2 separate regions of the Homo sapiens genome follow, and region 2 is linked to region 1. The links come from fine-mapping of genetic effects on gene expression. Tissue or cell type: whole blood. Region 1 holds a variant in brackets; the other region holds the start of a gene. All regions are shown on one strand. Distances are between the middles of the regions.

The links. PIP is the estimated chance that this variant, and not a neighbour inherited with it, causes the effect.
Region 2: it holds the start of NOD1, and the variant in region 1 is fine-mapped to the expression of NOD1 in whole blood (TOPMed, PIP above 0.99).

The regions. Positions count from the first base shown.
Region 1 is chr7:30,439,967-30,451,018 of GRCh38, reverse strand. It overlaps NOD1 (nucleotide binding oligomerization domain containing 1), which reads left to right. Exons shown (of 14, transcript NM_006092.4): 7 at 2,638-2,721; 8 at 3,969-4,052; 9 at 4,795-4,878. Among named protein-coding and RNA genes, the nearest start is that of NOD1, 33 kb to the left of the region's middle. RefSeq lists an enhancer at 993-1,493 and a silencer at 5,021-5,180. The variant T/C (reference allele first, on the strand shown) is at 4,894.
Region 2 is chr7:30,473,187-30,484,238 of GRCh38, reverse strand. NOD1 (nucleotide binding oligomerization domain containing 1) reads left to right here and starts at 5,455. Exons shown (of 14, transcript NM_006092.4): 1 at 5,455-5,633. RefSeq lists a silencer at 5,327-5,566 and an enhancer at 5,215-5,959.

The DNA of each region.
Region 1 (11,052 bases):
GGGTGCCCTTGAACAAAGTGCTTAACTCTCAGAGCCTCCACGCCCTCATCTGGAAAAAGAAGATGCTCATAATCCTATCAATTATGGCCACAGGGACCAATGTTAGTTGAGAATGGGTGAAGTGCATTACAAATATTACCTAATGGAATGCTCTTTACAACCCTGTAACTTAGGTACTGTTATTGTCTCTATTTTGGCAGATAAGGAAGTAGAGGCACAGAGAAGTTAATAGCTTGCTTTAGGTCACACAGCTCAGACATAGCAGTGCCAGAATGCATAAAGAACCTTCCTTTTAAGATTAATGTAAGGCTCCGAGATAGCCCTCAAAAAGTTTCTGGAATATGGGAGCTTTTATTACTGCAGAGAAAGCAGACCTTGTGCCAGTTGGCACTGGTGACTTTCTGTGATCAACGCTAGCAGCCCTTCACACTGCTAGAGACCTCAGTTAAAATGCTGACTCGTGGTTGTTTTCCTGTTCCATAGTTTACGGGAAACAGAGCCCAGTCTGTTTTCTTCTATTAGCATTTCCTATGTAAAATAAACCTTGTAAATCTCTACAGGGGGTTAAATTTGCCATTACTTGACTCATGCATTTCTAAAAAGCAGTAGGGATTTGGAACTGACTCCCAGTGCCTGTCACACCAGTGTCAGAGTGTAAATAATTGCATGGGGACATGGGGTGCAGGGGGTCGAAGGCTGCCCTAGCCTGGGAATTGGAAAACCTGGAGTCTGTTCTCTGTACTCTCAGCCAGTGACTCTCCCTCTGTAGCCCCAGGCAGTCTCACACTCAGTGCCACCCTCTGTCCATCTTTTTTTTTTCTCCCCCAAATGGAGTCCCGCTCTGTTGCCCAGGCTGGAGTGCAGTGGCGTGATCTCAGCTCACTGCAACCTCCGCCTCCTGGGTTCAAGCGATTCTCTTGCCCCAGCCTCCTGAGTAGCTGGGATTACAGGCACACGCCACCATGTCCGGCTAAGTTTTTTGTATTTTTAGTAGGACGGGGTTTCCCCATGTTGGCCAGGCTGGTCTTGAAATCCTGACCTCAGGTGATCCGCCCGCCTCGGCCTTCCAAAATGTTGGGGTTACAGGCATGAGCCGCCGCACCCGACCCCTCTGTCCATCTTTTCAATGGGAAACTCCACACCAGTGTGGTGGCCCTGCCCTTCCTGCTGTCCCCAGGTGAAGCTTTCCTTCACACCAGTGCAAGAAAAAACAGCTTGTAGGAAAGCAGAGGATATGGGTAACCACGGGAAGCACACTCAGTTCTCTGGCTGCATCAGTTAGGATTAGTTTTAGCTGAGAGCGAAAACCCCAAATGTTGGTGAGTTACAAGCTTATTTCTCTCATGTAAAAGTCTAGAGGTAGGTAGTTCAGGACTGGTATGGAGTCTCCATGACCCTCCGGAGCCCAGGCTCTCTTCTGCCTTCCTGTTCTGCCATCCTCACTACCCGGCTTTCCCATCTTGGCCCAAGAGGGCTGCTCAAACTCCAGCCATCTAGTCGACACTCTAGCTATCAGTAAGAAGGAAGGGCAAAGATTGAGAGCATGCCTCAATCTTTTAAGAACACTTCTTGGCTATTACTAATTATATTGCTGCTTAGATTTCAGAACTTAATGGTATGGGCAGAATTTAATGAGATGGGCCCAGCTAAAAGATGGGGGAATCTATTGCTAAGAAAGTATAGATATTGGGAATGTCTAGCAGCCTGTGCTGTCTTGGGCTGGCCATGCCATGTACATACACACTATTTCCCAGCACCAAGCTGGGGACTCTGAGGGAAAGGGTCCAGAGTGTCTGACTTGATCATTTTGATGTGGCCTAAAAATCAAGCTTTTAATTGTTCAGCCTTTTACTTGTTATCAAGGTCAGCTTGTGGGTCTAATTGGGCCCAAGGCTTGTGTTTCTAAGTAAAGTTTTATTGGAACGCAGCCATACCCATTTATTTACTTACTGGCTGCTTCACACTACACAGTTGAGTAGCTGTGACAGAGACCACATGGCCCACAGAGCCTAAAATATTTGCTGTCTGACACTTTACAGAATGACATGAGCAGTCTCCTTTGACAGTGGGACTCACAGCCTTTTCCAGTGACAAATCAGGGTTAGCCCATGTGTTTCTGGATGGGGGGAAGCTGTTGGCATTTTGGGTATAACAGTTCTTGTGAGACCTGTCCAGCATTTTGCAGGACACCTAACATCATTGGCCCTGCCTGCAAGATGACAGGGCACTCCCTCCTCCAGTCACAACCACTAAAAGCAGCCCCTGACATTTCCAAACCCATGCCCTCCACCATACGAGAACCAGGTACAGGGTCTGGCTGACACATAGGTCACACGCAAAGGGTGGATGTCAGAGGTGGCTGGCCTCACACGTCCTCCCTGTGTCCTTCACGGTCGTGTGAGGAGCCAGGGGCTGTGCTGCAGCCTCGCTCATGGGCTGGTGCAGGATGGGTCTGGCGGCCCCACGTTGGCCAGGCTTTGTAAGGGGCTATTTGGCTGATTGCTGTGGCCATTCTCCAGGGGCGTCTATACCTGAGAAAACTCCAGGGCCTGAAGGCTTCTGGATCTTTGTAAGATTAATGGTCCTTCATAATGAGTGCCTGCCCTGACTCGTAATTTTTTTGCTGTTTTATTTCAGACTCAGCGTAAACCAGATCACTGACGGTGGGGTAAAGGTGCTAAGCGAAGAGCTGACCAAATACAAAATTGTGACCTATTTGGGGTATGTCTTTCTCCAGAACACTGGGCCAACTACCTAGTAATAATACAGAGCTGCAGGGAATTCACATTCCCATAGGTCCCTGGATGATCGGCACGGATGGCCCAGGGCTGGGAAGAGCGCTGGCCCAGGAGTTGAGAGTCCTGGGTTCTCTTTGTGGCTCGGCCAGTCATGAAGTCTTGCTGAGCCTCAGCCTCCTCACCTGTAAAACTGGGATCCCAGTATAGGCAAGTAGGCTTACAACTGGTTATTGGGGGATGCAACGAGAATATAAGGGGATATATTTAATAAATGCTAGAATCCTGTTTACATATTAGTCTGGACTATTTTGGGTCCATAATCCCTCATCCAGAGCCTTTGGGGCAAGACCCGAATGGGGATTCTGAGTGCATGCTATGGCATGACGTGGCCGCAGGGGTCTAAGGCAGTGCCCCATTTTCAAACACTTTCATATTTCTCCCGCAGAATGTATGAAACAGTCAAACCAAGTGTGGTAAGAAAGACTATAAGTAGCTCCACATCAGTTGCCAAAAGAATTGTGAGAAACTTTGGGCATTCAGAGCCTTTGAGGTTTTGGAGTCTGAGAGAAGGGATTGCGGGCCAGCCCCACACAACTGGTGGCTCTGCAAGCTGGAGCAGTTGTTCAGTTTCTTGGGGCCTCAGTGGCCTTCGATGTTAATGAGGACATGGACGCAAACGACCCCGGGCCACACTCGGCTCCAGGGCTCTGTGTGGCTGTGGAACCCTGGAAGCCTGAGCTTAGCTGCCTTTCAACTTCCATCTGCTGTACTATTGAATTGGCATTGAGCGGTGAGATGGCTGAAAGGTAGACATCGAGAAGTTTTAATATTCAGAATCTTTTCTTCTCAAGACGCTGAATGTAATCTTAGTTGTAAATACCCATCACCTGCCAGTCACCGAGCACTCATGCACCAGGGCTTTGCGTTATGTCCTAAGATCCTCATAACCACCCTGCAAGGGGACTATCATCATTACCTCTGTATTACAGATGGAGAAACTGAGGCACAGAGAGGTAACGTGACTTGTCTCAGGCCATAAAGCTGGGGAAAGTAGTGGAGCTGGTTTTGAACCTGAGCTGTGAGACCTCAGAGCCCTAAACTCTGGTGCCTGTGTGTTCCCCTTTCAACCCAGACTTTGGAAATCAGTAGACACCATATGCTTCAAAAAACAGGGGCTATTAAAATGACATCAGGAGCCAGAAAGTCTCATGGCTGTGCTTTCTCTTGAAGTTTATACAACAACCAGATCACCGATGTCGGAGCCAGGTACGTCACCAAAATCCTGGATGAATGCAAAGGCCTCACGCATCTTAAGTAAGTGGGGTAGGCACCAGGTTCCTTAGTATATTCTCTTGATCACCCCCTTCTGTTGTTCAAAGATTAAATGTCACAGTAAAGAGCTTTCATCCTAAAGCCTTCCACTTGTCCCAGGGCCATGTTGGTCAAGTAAAGATACCTCTGTGTGATCTGTGAGGCTTGGATTCTGGAAGGGCCTCCCGTTATTGGTAGGGGGAAAGGTTGGCATTTTGATTTCATTAACTACTAGGCCGAAGAAAGGACTAACTCTCACCCTTTCTGGTGGTCTTTTTGCCCCAAGGGAGTTTCCTGTCGGGTTGCAAGGAAGAGCTTGGGCCCTTGCCCTGCTGTAGGTGTGCCCTGCGCAGGGGGTGACAGTGCGCCAGGCTTGGAGCCTCTGGTCCTGCCCTGACAGTGGCCACATACCTTGACCCTTGGCAGTCAAAGTGGGACCTCCCAGGTCTCCCGAGGGAAGTCAGTGATGCTGCTGAGGTCAATTAGAGGACCCCAGGGAGGGCTCAGGTCCCTGAGCTTCTGCAGAGACTGTGGACCATCTCCTGGAGAGGAACCCTGACTGACTGTCCTCAGGGCTTCAGTTCCCTCCCTGACAGGAGGCCCAGGCCATGGCTCTTGTGGATCCCAGAAGAAAGTGTACGGTTCCCAAGATGGGGCTGGAAGGGGCTCTGTGCTGGGGAGGAGGGTGACCCACATTGGAGCCCCTGCATAGCTGGAGGCTGACTGTGTGTGACTCTCTCTGCAGACTGGGAAAAAACAAAATAACAAGTGAAGGAGGGAAGTATCTCGCCCTGGCTGTGAAGAACAGCAAATCAATCTCTGAGGTTGGGTGAGTAGAAGGGGA[T/C]GGATGTATGTGGTACAACCTGCTGTGTGTGTGGGGGGCGGGCCTTGCTGTTCTTTTCATACATCAGTACACCAGAAGGACCACTGGGGCTCGCTGTCGGGGAGAGATAGTGGAGAGCTTTCACCATGCTGCGAAACTGAAACCGTGCCCATTAAGCAATAACTCCCCGGTCCCCCTCCCCCCTGCCTCTTGCAGCCACCCTGCTACTTACTCTCTCTATGGTTTTGACTACTCTACCTCATGTAAGTGGAATCATACAGTATTTGCCTTTTGGGGATGGCTGATTTCACTAGCATCATGTCCTCAAGATTCGTCCACATGGAAGCATGGGACAGGATTTCCTTTTTTTTTTTTTTTTTTTTTTTTTTTGACAGAGTCTCGCTCTGTTGCCCAGGCTGGAGTGCAGTGGCATGATCTCGGCTCACTGCAACCTCTGCCTTCTGGGTTCAAGCGATTCTCTCGCCTCAGCCACACGAGTAGCTGGGATTATAGGCACCCGCCACCAATCCCAGCTAATTTTTGTATTTTTAGTAGAGGCGGGGTTTCACCATGTTGGCCAGGCTGGTCTCAAACTCCTGACCTCAAATGATCCACCCACCTCGGTCTCCCAAAGTGTCAGGATTATAGGCGTGAGCCACCGTGCCCCGCCAGGATTTCCTTCTTTTTTAAGGCTGAGTAATACTCCATTGCATGGCTATGCCACATTTTGTTTACTCATTCATCCAAGAACAGACACTGGCTTGCTTCTATGCTTTGGCTGTTGTGAATAATGCTGCTGTGCACATGGGCATACAAATGTCTCTTCAAGGACTGCCTTCAATTCTTTTTTTTTTTTTTTTTTTTTTTTAGATTCTTTTTTTTTTTATTATACTCTAAGTTTTAGGGTACATGTGCACATTGTGCAGGTTAGTTACATATGTATACATGTGCCATGCTGGTGCGCTGCACCCACTAATGTGTCATCTAGCATTAGGTATATCTCCCAATGCTATCCCTCCCCCCTCCCCCGACCCCACCACAGTCCCCAGAGTGTGATATTCCCCTTCCTGTGTCCATGTGATCTCATTGTTCAATTCCCACCTATGAGTGAGAATATGCGGTGTTTGGTTTTTTGTTCTTGCGATAGTTTACTGAGAATGATGGTTTCCAATTTCATCCATGTCCCTACAAAGGATATGAACTCATCATTTTTTATGGCTGCATAGTATTCCATGGTGTATATGTGCCACATTTTCTTAATCCAGTCTATCATTGTTGGACATTTGGGTTGGTTCCAAGTCTTTGCTATTGTGAATAGTGCCACAATAAACATACGTGTGCATGTGTCTTTATAGCAGCATGATTTATACTCATTTGGGTATATACCCAGTAATGGGATGGCTGGGTCAAATGGTATTTCTAGTTCTAGATCCCTGAGGAATCGCCACACTGACTTCCACAATGGTTGAACTAGTTTACAGTCCCACCAACAGTGTAAAAGTGTTCCTATTTCTCCGCATCCTCTCCAGCACCTGCTGTTTCCTGACTTTTTAATGATTGCCATTCTAACTGGTGTGAGATGATATCTCATAGTGGTTTTGATTTGCATTTCTCTGATGGCCAGTGATGATGAGCATTTCTTCATGTGTTTTTTGGCTGCATAAATGTCTTCTTTTGAGAAGTGTCTGTTCATGTCCTTCGCCCACTTTTTGATGGGGTTGTTTGTTTTTTTCTTGTAAATTTGTTTGAGTTCATTGTAGATTCTGGATATTAGCCCTTTGTCAGATGAGTAGGTTGCGAAAATTTTCTCCCATGTTGTAGGTTGCCTGTTCACTCTGATGGTAGTTTCTTTTGCTGTGCAGAAGCTCTTTAGTTTAATTAGATCCCATTTGTCAATTTTGTCTTTTGTTGCCATTGCTTTTGGTGTTTTGGACATGAAGTCCTTGCCCACGCCTATGTCCTGAATGGTAATGCCTAGGTTTTCTTCTAGGGTTTTTATGGTTTTAGGTTTAACGTTTAAATCTTTAATCCATCTTGAATTGATTTTTGTATAAGGTGTAAGGAAGGGATCCAGTTTCAGCTTTCTACATATGGCTAGCCAGTTTTCCCAGCACCATTTATTAAATAGGGAATCCTTTCCCCATTGCTTGTTTTTCTCAGGTTTGTCAAAGATCAGATAGTTGTAGATATGCGGCATTATTTCTGAGGGCTCTGTTCTGTTCCATTGATCTATATCTCTGTTTTGGTACCAGTACCATGCTGTTTTGGTTACTGTAGCCTTGTAGTATAGTTTGAAGTCAGGTAGTGTGATGCCTCCAGCTTTGTTCTTTTGGCTTAGGATTGACTTGGCGATGCGGGCTCTTTTTTGGTTCCATATGAACTTTAAAGTAGTTTTTTCCAATTCTGTGAAGAAAGTCATTGGTAGCTTGATGGGGATGGCATTGAATCTGTAAATTACCTTGGGCAGTATGGCCATTTTCACGATATTGATTCTTCCTACCCATGAGCATGGAATGTTCTTCCATTTGTTTGTGTCCTCTTTTATTTCCTTGAGCAGTGGTTTGTAGTTCTCCTTGAAGAGGTCCTTCACATCCCTTGTAAGTTGGATTCCTAGGTATTTTATTCTCTTTGAAGCAATTGTGAATGGGAGTTCACCCATGATTTGGCTCTCTGTTTGTCTGTTGTTGGTGTATAAGAATGCTTGTGATTTTTGTACATTGATTTTGTATCCTGAGACTTTGCTGAAGTTGCTTATCAGCTTAAGGAGATTTTGGGCTGAGACGATGGGGTTTTCTAGATAAACAATCATGTCGTCTGCAAACAGGGACAATTTGACTTCCTCTTTTCCTAATTGAATACCCTTTATTTCCTTCTCCTGCCTGATTGCCCTGGCCAGAACTTCCAACACTATGTTGAATAGGAGCGGTGAGAGAGGGCATCCCTGTCTTGTGCCAGTTTTCAAAGGGAATGCTTCCAGTTTTTGCCCATTCAGTATGATATTGGCTGTGGGTTTGTCATAGATAGCTCTTATTATTTTGAAATACGTCCCATCAATACCTAATTTATTGAGAGTTTTTAGCATGAAGGGTTGTTGAATTTTGTCAAAGGCTTTTTCTGCATCTATTGAGATAATCATGTGGTTTTTGTCTTTGGCTCTGTTTATATGCTGGATTACATTTATTGATTTGCGTATATTGAACCAGCCTTGCATCCCAGGGATGAAGCCCACTTGATCATGGTGGATAAGCTTTTTGATGTGCTGCTGGATTCGGTTTGCCAGTATTTTATTGAGGATTTTTGCATCAATGTTCATCAAGGATATTGGTCTAAAATTCTCTTTTTTGGTTGTGTCTCTGCCCGGCTTTGGTATCAGAATGATGCTGGCCTCATAAAATGAGTTAGGGAGGATTCCCTCTTTTTCTATTGATTGGAATAGTTTCAGAAGGAATGGTACCAGTTCCTCCTTGTACCTCTGGTAGAATTCGGCTGTGAATCCATCTGGTCCTGGACTCTTTTTGGTTGGTAAACTATTGATTATTGCCACAATTTCAGAGCCTGTTATTGGTCTATTCAGAGATTCAACTTCTTCCTGGTTTAGTCTTGGGAGAGTGTATGTGTCGAGGAATGTATCCATTTCTTCTAGATTTTCTAGTTTATTTGCGTAGAGGTGTTTGTAGTATTCTCTGATGGTAGTTTGTATTTCTGTGGGATCGGTGGTGATATCCCCTTTATCATTTTTTATTGTGTCTATTTGATTCTTCTCTCTTTTTTTCTTTATTAGTCTTGCTAGCGGTCTATCAATTTTGTTGATCCTTTCGAAAAACCAGCTCCTGGATTCATTGATTTTTTGAAGGGTTTTTTGTGTCTCTATTTCCTTCAGTTCTGCTCTGATTTTAGTTATTTCTTGCCTTCTGCTAGCTTTTGAATGTGTTTGCTCTTGCTTTTCTAGTTCTTTTAATTGTGATGTTAGGGTGTCAATTTTGGATCTTTCCTGCTTTCTCTTGTAGGCATTTAGTGCTATAAATTTCCCTCTACACACTGCTTTGAATGCGTCCCAGAGATTCTGGTATGTGGTGTCTTTGTTCTCGTTGGTTTCAAAGAACATCTTTATTTCTGCCTTCATTTCGTTATGTACCCAGTAGTCATTCAGGAGCAGGTTGTTCAGTTTCCATGTAGTTGAGCGGCTTTGAGTGAGATTCTTAATCCTGAGTTCTAGTTTGATTGCACTGTGGTCTGAGAGATAGTTTGTTATAATTTCTGTTCTTTTACATTTGCTGAGGAGAGCTTTACTTCCAACTATGTGGTCAATTTTGGAATAGGTGTGGTGTGGTGCTGAAAAAAATGTATATTCTGTTGATTTGGGGTGGAGAGTTCTGTAGATGTCTATTAGGTCTGCTTGGTGCAGAGCTGAGTTCAATTCCTGGGTATCCTTGTTGACTTTCTGTCTCATTGATCTGTCTAATGTTGACAGTGGGGTGTTAAAGTCTCCCATTATTAATGTGTGGGAGTCTAAGTCTCTTTGTAGGTCACTGAGGACTTGCTTTATGAATCTGGGTGCTCCTGTATTGGGTGCATAAATATTTAGGATAGTTAGCTCCTCTTGTTGAATTGATCCCTTTACCATTATGTAATGGCCTTCTTTGTCTCTTTTGATCTTTGTTGGTTTAAAGTCTGTTTTATCAGAGACTAGGATTGCAACCCCTGCCTTTTTTTGTTTTCCATTGGCTTGGTAGATCTTCCTCCATCCTTTTATTTTGAGCCTATGTGTGTCTCTGCACGTGAGATGGGTTTCCTGAATACAGCACACTGATGGGTCTTGACTCTTTATCCAACTTGCCAGTCTGTGTCTTTTAATTGCAGAATTTAGTCCATTTATATTTAAAGTTAATATTGTTATGTGTGAATTTGATCCTGTCATTATGATGTTAGCTGGCGATTTTGCTCATTAGTTGATGCAGTTTCTTCCTAGTCTCGATGGTCTTTACATTTTGGCATGATTTTGCAGCGGCTGGTACCGGTTGTTCCTTTCCATGTTTACCGCTTCCTTCAGGAGCTCTTTTAGGGCAGGCCTGGTGGTGACAAAATCTCTCAGCATTTGCTTGTCTATAAAGTATTTTATTTCTCCTTCACTTATGAAGCTTAGTTTGGCTGGATATGAAATTCTGGGTTGAAAATTCTTTTCTTTAAGAATGTTGAATATTGGCCCCCACTCTCTTCTGGCTTGTAGGGTTTCTGCCGAGAGATCCGCTGTTAGTCTGATGGGCTTTCCTTTGAGGGTAACCCGAACTTTCTCTCTGGCTGCCCTTAACATTTTTTCCTTCATTTCAACTTTGGTGAATCTGACAATTATGTGTCTTGGAGTTGCTCTTCTCGAGGAGTATCTTTGTGGCGTTCTCTGTATTTCCTGAATCTGAACGTTGGCCTGCCTTGCTAGATTGGGGAAGTTCTCCTGGATAATATCCTGCAGAGTGTTTTCCAACTTGGTTCCATTCTCCACATCACTTTCAGGTACACCAATCAGACGTAGATTTGGTCTTTTCACATAGTCCCATATTTCTTGGAGGCTTTGCTCATTTCTTTTTATTCTTTTTTCTCTAAACTTCCCTTCTCGCTTCATTTCATTCATTTCATCTTCCATTGCTGATACCCTTTCTTCCAGTTGATCGCATCGGCTCCTGAGGCTTCTGCATTCTTCACGTAGTTCTCGAGCCTTGGTTTTCAGCTCCATCAGCTCCTTTAAGCACTTCTCTGTATTGGTTATTCTAGTTATACATTCTTCTAAATTTTTTTCAAAGTTTTCAACTTCTTTGCCTTTGGTTTGAATGTCCTCCCGTAGCTCAGAGTAATTTGATCGTCTGAAGCCTTCTTCTCTCAGCTCGTCAAAATCATTCTCCATCCAGCTTTGTTCTGTTGCTGGTGAGGAACTGCGTTCCTTTGGAGGAGGAGAGGCGCTCTGCGTTTTAGAGTTTCCAGTTTTTCTGTTCTGTTTTTTCCCCATCTTTGTGGTTTTATCTACTTTTGGTCTTTGATGATGGTGATGTACAGATGGGTTTTCAGTGTAGATGTCCTTTCTGGTTGTTAGTTTTCCTTCTAACAGACAGGACCCTCAGCTGCAGGTCTGTTGGAATACCCTGCCGTGTGAGGTGTCAGTGTGCCTCTGCTGGGGGGTGCCTCCCAGTT
Region 2 (11,052 bases), 33 kb before region 1:
ACTGAATATCAAGAGCCTGAGAAACTGCTTGGGTGATTTGACTAATAAAGGCTGGTCCGTTATTGGACTGTATAGAGGTGGGAAGGCCAAACCGAGCAATTATGTCTGACAGAAGGGAAGAAATGACCGCGGTGGCCTTCTCAGACCCTGTGGGAAAGGCCTCTACCTATCTAGTGAAAGCGTATACCCAGACCAAGAGGTATTTTAGTTTTCTGACTCGGGGCATGTGAGTAAAGTCAATTTACCAGTCCTGGGCAGGGGTAAATTCTCGAGCTTGATGTGTAGGGAAGGGAGGGGGCCTGAGAAATCCCTGAGGAGAAACAGAATAGCAGATGGAACACTGAGAAGTGATTTTCTGAGGATAGATTTTTACAATGGAAAGGAAATGAGAGGTTTTAAGAGATGGGCTAGCGGCTTGTAACCTACATGGAAGAGGTTATGAAATGATGACAGAATAGAATGGGCCTGTGAGGCTGGAAAGAGATATTTTCCTTGGTCCTAGAACCATTTGCCTTATGTGGGAAGAGATTGATAAGTGGAAGTTTCAGTGGGACAGTAGGTGGGAGTGACCGAAGAGAAGGATAAAAACTGGCCATGAGGGACAGAAGTTGGAACTCTAGCTGCTTCTTTAGCTACCTTATCAGCATAAGCATTGCCCTGAGTGATGGGATCTGATGCCTTTTGATGGCCCTTGCAGTGAATGACTCCAGCTTCCTTTGGAAGTAAAGTGGTCTTGAGAAGAGTTTTTATTAAAGAGGCATTAATGATGGAGGACCTTTGCGTAGTGAGGGAACCTTTTTCTGCCTATATAACAGCATGGTGGTGCAGGATATGGGAGGCATATTTAGAGACAGTATAAATATTGACGTGTAGTCCTTTTGCAAGAGTGAGGGCTCAAGTTAAGGCAATGAGTTTGGCTTGCTGAGAGGTAGGGGAGCGGGGCAGAGTGGTAGCCTCAAGGATAGATGTGGAAGATACTACTATAGCATAGCCTGCCTTTGCTGGTGAATGGCAATTAGGCCTGGTGGAACTGCCAACAATAAACCAAGTGCGATCAAGGTGAGGAACAGGAAAGAAAGAAATATGGGGAAATGGAGTGAATGCCAGGTGGATTTAGAGAGATACAGTCATGGGGGTCAGGTGTGGTATCAGGAATAATGGGGGCTAGCTAAAACAGTAGGGTTAAGTTATTTGGACAGAAAGGCTACAGGGCACAATCCCAGCTCTTGTGTAAGAATTCTGACTGCACAGCCCTGCACTTCGGCTGTGTGTAATGAAAAAAGGGTTGGGATGAGTTACGGAGAGCTAGTGTGGGAGCAGCTTTTAGGGCTGTTTTTTAAGGAACGGAAAGAGGAGTGGGGAAAGGATTTAGGATTAATGGGGTCAGCTAGGTTTGCTTTTGTGAGTTTATATAATGGTTTAGTCAGGATGGTAAAACTAGGTATCCAAAGGCGGAAGTACCTACCCATGCCTAGGAAGGAAAGGAGTTGTTGTTTTGTAGAAGTGGCTGGGGTTTGGGAGATTAGCCAGTCAGGATCAGCAGAGAGAGCATGTGTTTTTTCATGAAGAATTATGCCAAGACAGGTAATGGATGAGGAAGAAATTTGGGCTTGACTGAAGCAATGGGGGCTGTCCATGAAGCCTTGTGGCAGTACAGCCCAAGTAAGTTGCTGAGGCTGATGGATGTCAGGATCAGTCTAAGTGAGAGCAAAGAGAGGCTGGGATGAAGGGTGCAAAGGAATAGTAAAGAAAGCATGTTTGAGATCCAGAACAGAATAATGGGCTATGGAGGGGTTGTGGAGGGAGGTATTGAGGATAGGAGAGTATATGGGTTTGGCACCACAGGGTGGATAGGCAAGACAATTTGGTTGATAAGGCGCAGATCCTGAACTAACCTGTAAGGCTTGTCCGGTTTTTGGACAGGTAAAATGGGGGAATTGTAAGGAGAGTTTATAGGATTTAAAAGGCCATGCTGTTAACAGGTGAGTGATAACAGGCTTTAATCCTTTTAAAGCGTGCTGTGGGATGGGATATTGGCGTTGAGCGGGGTAAGGGTGATTAGGTTTTAATGGGATGGTACGGGTTGCGTGATCGGTTGCCAAGGAGGGAGTAGAGGTGTCCTACACTTGTGGATTAAGGTGGGGGGATACAAAAGGAGGATGCAAAGGAGGCTTTGAACTGGGAAAAAGGGCAGCATTGAGGTGTGGCTGTAGCCTAGGAATAGTCAGGGAAGCAGATAATTTAGTTAAAATTTCTCGACCTAATAAGGGAACTGGGCAGGTGGGGATAACTAAAAAGGAGTGCATAAAAGAATGTTGTCCAAGTTGGCACCAGAATTGGGAAGTTTTAAGAGGTTTAGAAGCCTGGCCATCAATACCCACAACATTTATGGAGGCAAAGGAAACAGGCCTTTGTAAAGAAGGTAATGTGGAGTGGGTAGCCTCCGTATTAATTAAGAAGGGGATGGACTTACCCTCCACTGTAAGAGTTACCCAAAGCATCTGTGATGGTCCAGGAGGCTTCTGAGGCGATCGGGCAGCGTCAGTCCGAGAAGATCTGTAAAGGAGTCAGTCAGAGAGCCTTGGGCCAGACAGAGTTCCAGGGGCTCTAGCAGTGGCTGCTGGGCGAGTTGGACAGTCTGATTTCCAGTGGGGTCCTGCACAGATGGGACATGGCTTGGGAGGAATCCCGGGCTGCACACATTCCTTGGCCCAGTGGCCAGATTTCTGGCACTTGAAGCAAGATCCTGATGGAGGAGGTCCTGTAGGAATGCTTGACCACTGCGGCTTAGGCATTCTGATGTTCTTGTGTGCTGGAGGTGCGGCTGGGTTTTGTCTTACAGCAGAGGCAAGTAATTGTAACTCAGAAATGCATTGCTGTCTGGCTGCCTCCTTTCTATTATTGTACACCTTGAAGGTGAGGTTGATTAATTCCTTTTGTGGGGTTTGAGGGCCGAATTCTAATTTTTGGAGCTTTATGTAACGTCGGGAGTGGATTGGGTACTAAAATGCATACTAAGACAGCCTTCTGACCTTTCAGAGTCTAGGGCTGTAAAGTGTCTAAGGGTTGTTGCCAAAAGAGCCATGGACTGGGCTATGTTTTCATATTTGATGAAAAAAAGCCTAAATGCTAATTGATTTGGGAGAGGTTGGATAAAGAAAAAGGAGCATTAACCTTGAGGAAATTGTTGGGTAGGTAGGGGAGGGCTAGTTGCGGAACGAAACTGTAAGCTGGACCGGGTGTGAGGAGGTGAGGTGATAGAAGGATTATAGGGTGGGGGAGTGGAGGCAGAGGAAGAATTGGGACCTGGCTCAGCCTGGCGAGGAGCAGCCTGGGGAGGAGGGGAGAGGTTAGATGGGTCCATAGAAAAGGAGGATTCACAGGACTCAGAGCTTGGGGTGGAGACTGAAGGAACAGACAGGAGAGAAAGAAGATTTGGGATGAGTCACATTGGGAGCAGAGATTAGGAAGGGACCAATGTGTAAAAGAATGCCTGGACATCAGGCACCTCAGACTATTTGCCCATTTTACGACAATAATTATCTAGCTCATGTAGGATGGAGAAATTGAAAGTGCCGTTTTCTGGCTATTTGGAACCATTGTTGAGTCTGTATTGGGGTCAAACGGTATTGCAGAAGAAAATAAGGCGTTTAGGTTTTAGGTCAGGTGTGAGTTGAAGAGGTTTTAAGTTCTTGAGAACACAGGCTAAGGGAGAAGAAGGGGGAATGGAGGGTGGAAGGTTGCCCATAGTGAAGGAGGCAAGCCCAGAGAAAAGAAGGTAGAGACCCGGAGAAGGGGGGTGGTGAGCAGCCCTGGGCTGCAATGTGGCTGAGCAGCCAAAGCAGGCGACCCACAATTGACTTGCCACCAAGGGAATGTGGGTGAATGACCAAGGCAGGCATCCCCACGGTGATCAGACACCAATGAAATGTACGTGAATAATCAGGCAGGTGTCCCTGCAGTGATTAAACACCAAGGGACGACTGTTTTCCTGAGTCCGTGACCGGAGCTGGAGTTTTGGGTCCATGGATAAAATATGTCTCCTTTGTCTCTACTAGAGAGGAGAAAGAACTGGAATTGGAAATAGAGGGAGATTTAAGGGTAGTGAGAGAGGCTGGAGAAGACAGTGAAAAGACCGCTTACCCGATTTGAAATTGGTGAGATGTTCCTTGGGCTGTTTGGTCTGAGGACCCGAGGTCATAGGTGGATCTCCTCACAGAGTGAGGGTGAGGACAGGGGACTGGTCTCCTGAAGGAGTCCTCCTGTCCCGGGTCTTCGGCACCAAATGTCACACGTGTCCGTGTGAAGAGACCACCAAAAGGCTTTGCGTGAGCAATAAAGCTGTTTATTTCACCTGGGTGCAGGTGGGCCGAGTACGAAAAAAAGAGTCAGCAAAGGGAGTTAGGGGTGTGGTAGCTTTATAGGATTTGTGTGGGTAGTGGAAAATTACAGTCAAAGGGGGTTGTTCTCTGGTGGGCAAGGCGGGGGCCGGGGGGGTGGAAGGTCTACAAAGTGCTCAGTGGGGGAGCTTCTGAGCCAGGAGAAGGAATTTCACAAGGTAATGTCATCAGTTAAGGCAGGAACCAGCCATTTTCACTACCTTTGTGATTCCTCAGTTGCTTCAGGCCATCTGGATGTATACATGCAGGCTTGGGCTCAGAGGCCTGACACAAGTTGGCACATTTGATCCTATCAACTTTAGTTTGCACTTTCACTTTTGATTTAAGAACATACTTTCTGTTTCTCAGAGGGCAGCCTCTGATGGGAATTTTAATACTCACAAGCATCAGTGGCTATATGATTGAATGTACTTCTTCAGTGTGAGTAAGTGACAACTTTCTGTAGCATGATATCCCTTATGGACACGATCCCCATTCAAAACGTTTTAAAACTATTTTATTGGGGACATTTATTAGCATGTTAAAACTCTTTTACAACCTATTAGAGCATATGCATAGAACATAAAATGTACACTGCCAAGAACAAATTTAAGGATAGGAAGAAAAGCTTACATTTTTTAAAAAGTATAAATTGAAATGTATGCAGTGTAATTTAAATTTGATTACGTTAACCTCCATTTCATCAGGACCACGTGTCGCGTTTTAACAAGAGTTTCCCTATCATGTCCAGGCTTTGGCTCTGGTTGCAGGCGCTGGGTAGGCACTTTTACGAGGAGGGACCTGGCACGATGGCACCACAAATTCCCAAGTGTGTCACCTCTGGGCGAACTTGGGCCTGTCCACTCGGCCCTGCGCGGTGGCCAGGGGCTCACCCTCTCGCACCGGGCGTCCCTCTGCGCGCAGCTTCTCTCGCCCCCCCGCGCCAGACCCGGGCGAATGGCAGCACCGTGGGACCCTGCCTTGACCGCCCCCGCCCTTCGGCGGCCTCTCCCAGCAGCCGGCAGGCTCTTGGGCGCGCCAACAGAGGGGCGCGGCTGCGGCTGTAGTCGCAGCCAGTTCCCGTTCCGGGCCCGCGAGGCAGCCGCCCCGGTCCTGCCCCTCCCTCGCGCTACTGCGGGAGCAGCGTCCTCCCGGGCCACGGCGCTTCCCGGCCCCGGCGTCCCCGGACCATGGCGCTCTCCGGGCTCTTCTCTAGCTCTCAGCGGCTGCGAAGTCTGTAAACCTGGTGGCCAAGTAAGTCCCAGCGACTGGGGATTCGCGCGGGGCAGGCCCTTTCTGAGGTCCTGGGCGCTGCGAGTGAGGAGGCGCAGGGAGGCGGGATTTGCGTGCGGGCGGAACGCAGCGCGGCTCTGGAGGAGCTCTGGGTGGAACCAAGCGGAGAAACCCGCGAGTTTGAAGCATGTAGCGAAAGTTGAGAGGGATGAACTTCACAGTCAGCGGAATCGTTTATCCCACTGTGGTCGAACGCAGGGGTTCTCAATCGTGCCAGCAGCTTAGAACCACCTGGGGAGCTTTTAAAATCCAGATATCCAGGCTGCACCCTAGATCAATTCCATCAGAATCTCACGGAGTCAGACCCAGGCCTCCGTATCTTTTAAAAGCTCCCCAAGTGATTCCAGTGTGCAGCCAGCGTTCGAGGGTTTGTGGCAAAGGCTGGAAGGGCAGACAGGGGCCTTCATGGAGTCCCGCCTGCAGACGGGACAGCAGCTCCCAGTGTCCTGCTTGGTCCTGGAGAGAGGGTGAGAACTTCCCTTGGGTTTCATGCTCCACAAAGTAAGGAAATGAGACAATGCTTGGCAAGGTCGCCTGAATATCACATTCAAAAACGCCTCCAATGTGTGCAGTTGTTTTGGCACATTGTGAAAAACATAGGAAATGACAGAGGTTGATGTCTCATTAGCTCTGCATTCTAGGAAACATTTCGGTTGTTGGTGTTTGAAATTAAGTCTGGGGAAGCTAAGCTAGTAAACCCATGGCCTTGATGACTTCTGGCCTTTCTGCTTTAAGGGTGAAGCCAGGGCCGGGCGCGGTGGCTCACGCCTGTAATCCCAGCACTTTGGGAGGCCAAGGCAGGCGGATCACCTGAGGTCGAGAGTTCGAGACCAGCCTGGCCCAACATGGTGAAACCGTCTCTACTAAAAAAAAAAAAAAAAAAAATTAACCGGGCGTGGTGGCGCATGCCTGTAATCCCAGCTACTCGGGAGGCTGAAGCAGGAGAATTGCTTGAACCCGGGAGGCAGAGGTTGCAGTGAGCCGAGATCGCCCTGTTGCGCTCCAGCCTGGGCAACAAGAGCAAAACTCCGTCAAAAACAAACAAACAAACAAAAAACAAAAAAACGGTGAAGCCAGAAGTCGTGCTTGCCAAAGGGTCGAGTTTGTTCTCCCTCAAAGCCCCTGTTGAAGATTGAACTATCACTTTCAGGGAAGAGTAAAAGAGTAACTCCACGATGCATCTTAGAGAGGAGTGGATTCCCTGTTCTCACCCAGGCTTAGATGCCAGGGGCCAGGTAGCTGAAATCCAGGCAAACCAGGCATTGACAAAGTACAGACTTCTACCGAATATGCCAGACAGATAAGCAAGCTGTGTTTAAAACAAACAGCAGAGTGGTAGAAGAGGGCTCTTTCAAATATTGTAAGAAGAGTAGGTTTTATTTTTGTGGAGTGGAGAAATAAGTTCACGCTTTGGAACCCATCAAATCTGGGTCAAAACTCGGATTCTGTCACTTCTATGCTGTGACTTTGGGCAAGTTCCTTGACCTCTCCAAGCCCCTGTTTTCCCACCTGTAAAATAAAGAGCAACCCTCTCCTGAGGCTAGCATAGTTCAGCGAGATGATGTGCATCACACACCTGGAAGGTGGTGGCGCTGGCAGGTGCTCTGGCAGAGGTAGTTATTAGACACTGGAGTGGCAGTTTGTGCCCGTTAATTGTTTACTTAGTACAGCCACTATGAGGGAGAATGTCTATAAAATGTTCCCTTCAACGCTCCATTCCTTCTCCTGCCCTGCTGCCCCGCTCAGGGCCTTAGCGGGCTTTAAGTCTGAAATCTTAGGCTGCAAATCCCCTCAGTCCCCCAGGGCGTATTAATGGCTCTGGAATACAGTTTTACTGCATGTGATAGGAATGAATATTTTGACACACACACACTCAAAAGCTGTTCTTAATCTTGAGACTTCCTCCTCTCTGTTGCCACATATATATCTTTTAAATGGCTTTCCAAGAAAGCTGGGCTGTGCACAGTGTCTCAGAATTAGTGTATGTGCACACACACGCACGTTGCTCCCTGCTGACAACATCCTCAGACCATACCCTTGGTGTTCCTGTTTTGCTCCTGACTCTTGGCCTAGGGACAGTGAATCTTTCTTGAATGACCAAGGACAGTCAGGGATCTGAGGAAGGGAGAACCCAAATTCTACAATTGCTGATGCCTGCGTCCCAGCTGGAACTTTACCCTGGTACGTGCTCTGTGCATCATGGATGGTCACTTTGATCCTAACAGCAGTGCTGTTTAGATTAGACATCAGAAATAGAAACAGTAAGTAATATAGGCATAAAGATCAAGTGTTTTTCTAGTGTATGTGTGATCACTGATATTTGCTTACACAAGACTATCAAAGTCTTATCTCTTATTCAAAGAAAAGGATTCAATATTTGTTCAAAATCTAAGATATGAACGTAGGATTTAAGGTTTAAGTTACTAGTTTCTTCTATCATTCTTATTATTGGGGGGATTTTTTTTAGGCAAGAAGAAATTAGAAAAGCTAAAATGTGTACTTATGCTGAATTTTTGTCATGCAGAGGCTCTAGGTATTTTGCAAGTTTTCAGAAGTCCCATTTTCTTTTATCTTCTAGGGACAGTCAGTTGCATGTCACACAAGGGGCCTCCTTTGATTTATCCAAAAGGTCTGACCTGGTTTCTGGAAAAACTCTTTAGCGCATCAAATACTCGTTGAGGGCAAGTGTTGTTTCTAAACTTGACTCTTGTGGTGAGAGGTGAGTAGTCACTGGCATGTCAGTTAGCTGACATTTTTTACCCACGCTAGAAAGTTCATTCAGGCAAGACTTCCTGGCTTGAACTCTTATTTAAACATGTGTTTTATCTGGAACTGCCACAGTCCAAACTGTGGGCAGAGATTCCTGTGCAGAGTTGGCTAAGGCAGGCATGCCACCGGCCCTTCTCTTCGCCATCCTCCCTGTCTCTGGAGCCATTGAGCCAACCGGGGATGATGCCACTCTGAAGGGATCTCACCTTGGTCCTCTAATGGGGCAGAGTTCCCTGATGAGGGATGCACGTCCTTAGAGCCAACAAGGCAATTTTGTATTATACTGCATGGAAATTAAAAGTTACTCTCCAGTAAACTGCCACTTTAGAATTTGTTTTACTGAAGCGTCCTTTTCCTCTAAATTATAGAGCACTGTAGTAAGGGCCCAGATAATTTCAAAGTGAGCACCAGATTAGTGCCAGATTTTGGCAGATTAAGATTTTAATAAAACATGAACATTCACCTTGATTACATTTGTTTCAGAAAGTTGATGTCCCTTGGCCTTCTGTTCTGTCATTGCCACCATACAGGTTAGGGTCAGAATTGGGAGAATGTAGTCATTTGGTAGATATTTTCAGAGCCACATGCAACTGGGCCTGGCAGTCACATATTGCTAAGGAAACGCCTTACATGATAGCAGAGCTGAGAGCAGATGATGATTTACTTGGGAGAGTATTCGTTTTCTAATTCCCAAAAGATTAAAAGTCTAATGAGTAAGAACTTCCCCTGCTTCTTGTAACACATGCCCAGATTGCTGCCTATGACCTCAAAACCAAACCTTCTTGGAAGGAACTGGGGGAAAGCTAGGCTTTTTTGGCAGGGGATATCCTAACTCCTTACAACACAGGCCCCTTCAGTGAGTGGGTCATTTCTGGACTCCATTTAACAAAGCTAGTGTTTCATACTTAATATGAAAACAGGCGTGTTGATGATTTCAAATAGAGATGTTGGGTCTATAAAGTATACCAGACATGCAGGGCTGAAATGGAAGAAACAATGGGTTTTGGAGTCAGAACCAGGATCCAATTCCTGTTTTATTCCTTACTTCAGGGGTCCCCAATCCCTAGGCCATGGACCAATACCAGTCGGTGGCCTCTTAGGTGGGCCGCACAGCAGAAGGTGAGCAGCAGTGAGCAAGCATTACCGCCTGAACTCTGCCTCCTGTCAGATCAGCGGTGGCATCAGATTCTCATGCGAGGGGAACCCTATGGTGAACCGCACACGCGAGGGATCTAGGCTGCACATTCCTTATGAGAATTTAATGCCTGATGATCTGAGGTAGACAGTTTCATCCTAAAACGATCTCCCCTGTGCCCCTACTCGCCGCTGTCTGTGGAAAAATTGTCTTCCATGAAACCAGTTCCTCGTGCCAAAAAGGTTGGGGATCACTGCCTTAACTAACTGTGTGACCTTCACCAACATACTTAACCACTCCAACTCTGTGTCCTCCTTTGTAAACTAGTTACAATAATGCTTTCCTTGCTGGGCAGTTTTCAGTATTTGATGAGCTAATCTATGTAAAGTGCTTAGCACATCACCCAGCTTCTAGTAAGTCATGATTATGATGATAAAGATTATGATGATTACTTTGGTTCCAGGGCTGGTCTTTCCTTCTCCTAGTTGTGTGACTTCAGATAAGGTTTTTAATCTTCTTGAGCCTTGGCTTTTGAATCTGTAAAATGGGCTAACTCTACCTATCTGGAAAGATTGCTTTGAGGCTTGATTTGATTAAATGAAATGATGACAGGCCTGATCTGGTAGACCCTAAATAAGAATAGCATTTACATAGACTTCCTGTGTCCCACACTGGTCTAAGAGTTTAGGGTTTTTGTTGTTTGTTTTTAGCTCATTTTATCTTCCCAGCGCCCCTGTGCAGTGGTTATCATTTCCCTTGTTTTATAGAGGAGACAACTGAGGCTCAACAAGATTAAATAACTAGCCCAAAGTCTATCCCAGGACTTGAAGCAGAGTCCCTGTTCTTAACCACTGCCCCAGCTGCTCAGTGAGTACCCCCACCCCTGCTTATTCTACCTACCTCCTGATGCCCATCTCCTGCCATTAACAGTCAGATGTGCTTATGCTCTGTGTAGGGCCATATTTCTGGAAACAGAGCCCCTGCTTCCAAAGAGCAGCTTACTTAGGAAGTGAAAGTGGCAGCTCACTCCTCCTGTCGCCTCCTCCCACTTCCAGATAACATTAAACCTCATCCATTGCTTAGGCTGGTTAATATCAACTGGAAAAAAAAATCTGATACCGATATTGACTAACATTATTAGAGTGGGTTGCAATGTTAGTTTTGAGATAAATGTCATCTCGATGCACTGAGATTGTTAGCCTGTGTGTAATAAAACATGCCTTCACCCAGACAGATGTGGGGGGTGTTTGGAAGACAGAAACCAGGCCTAGGAGATCCCAGGTTGAGACTCAGGTGGACAGCAACAGTATTGAAAATAATATTACATCAAAGGTGCAGTGGTCTGTTCTAAGTACACCACCTTTTCTGACATTCCTTACTCATCCTCCCTCTCCTTTACCCCAGTGGCTTTGGCCTCTTCTTGAGTTCTGGCAATCTTCCCTGAGGTCTGGGTCAGTGGAATTTGGGGGCCCAGAA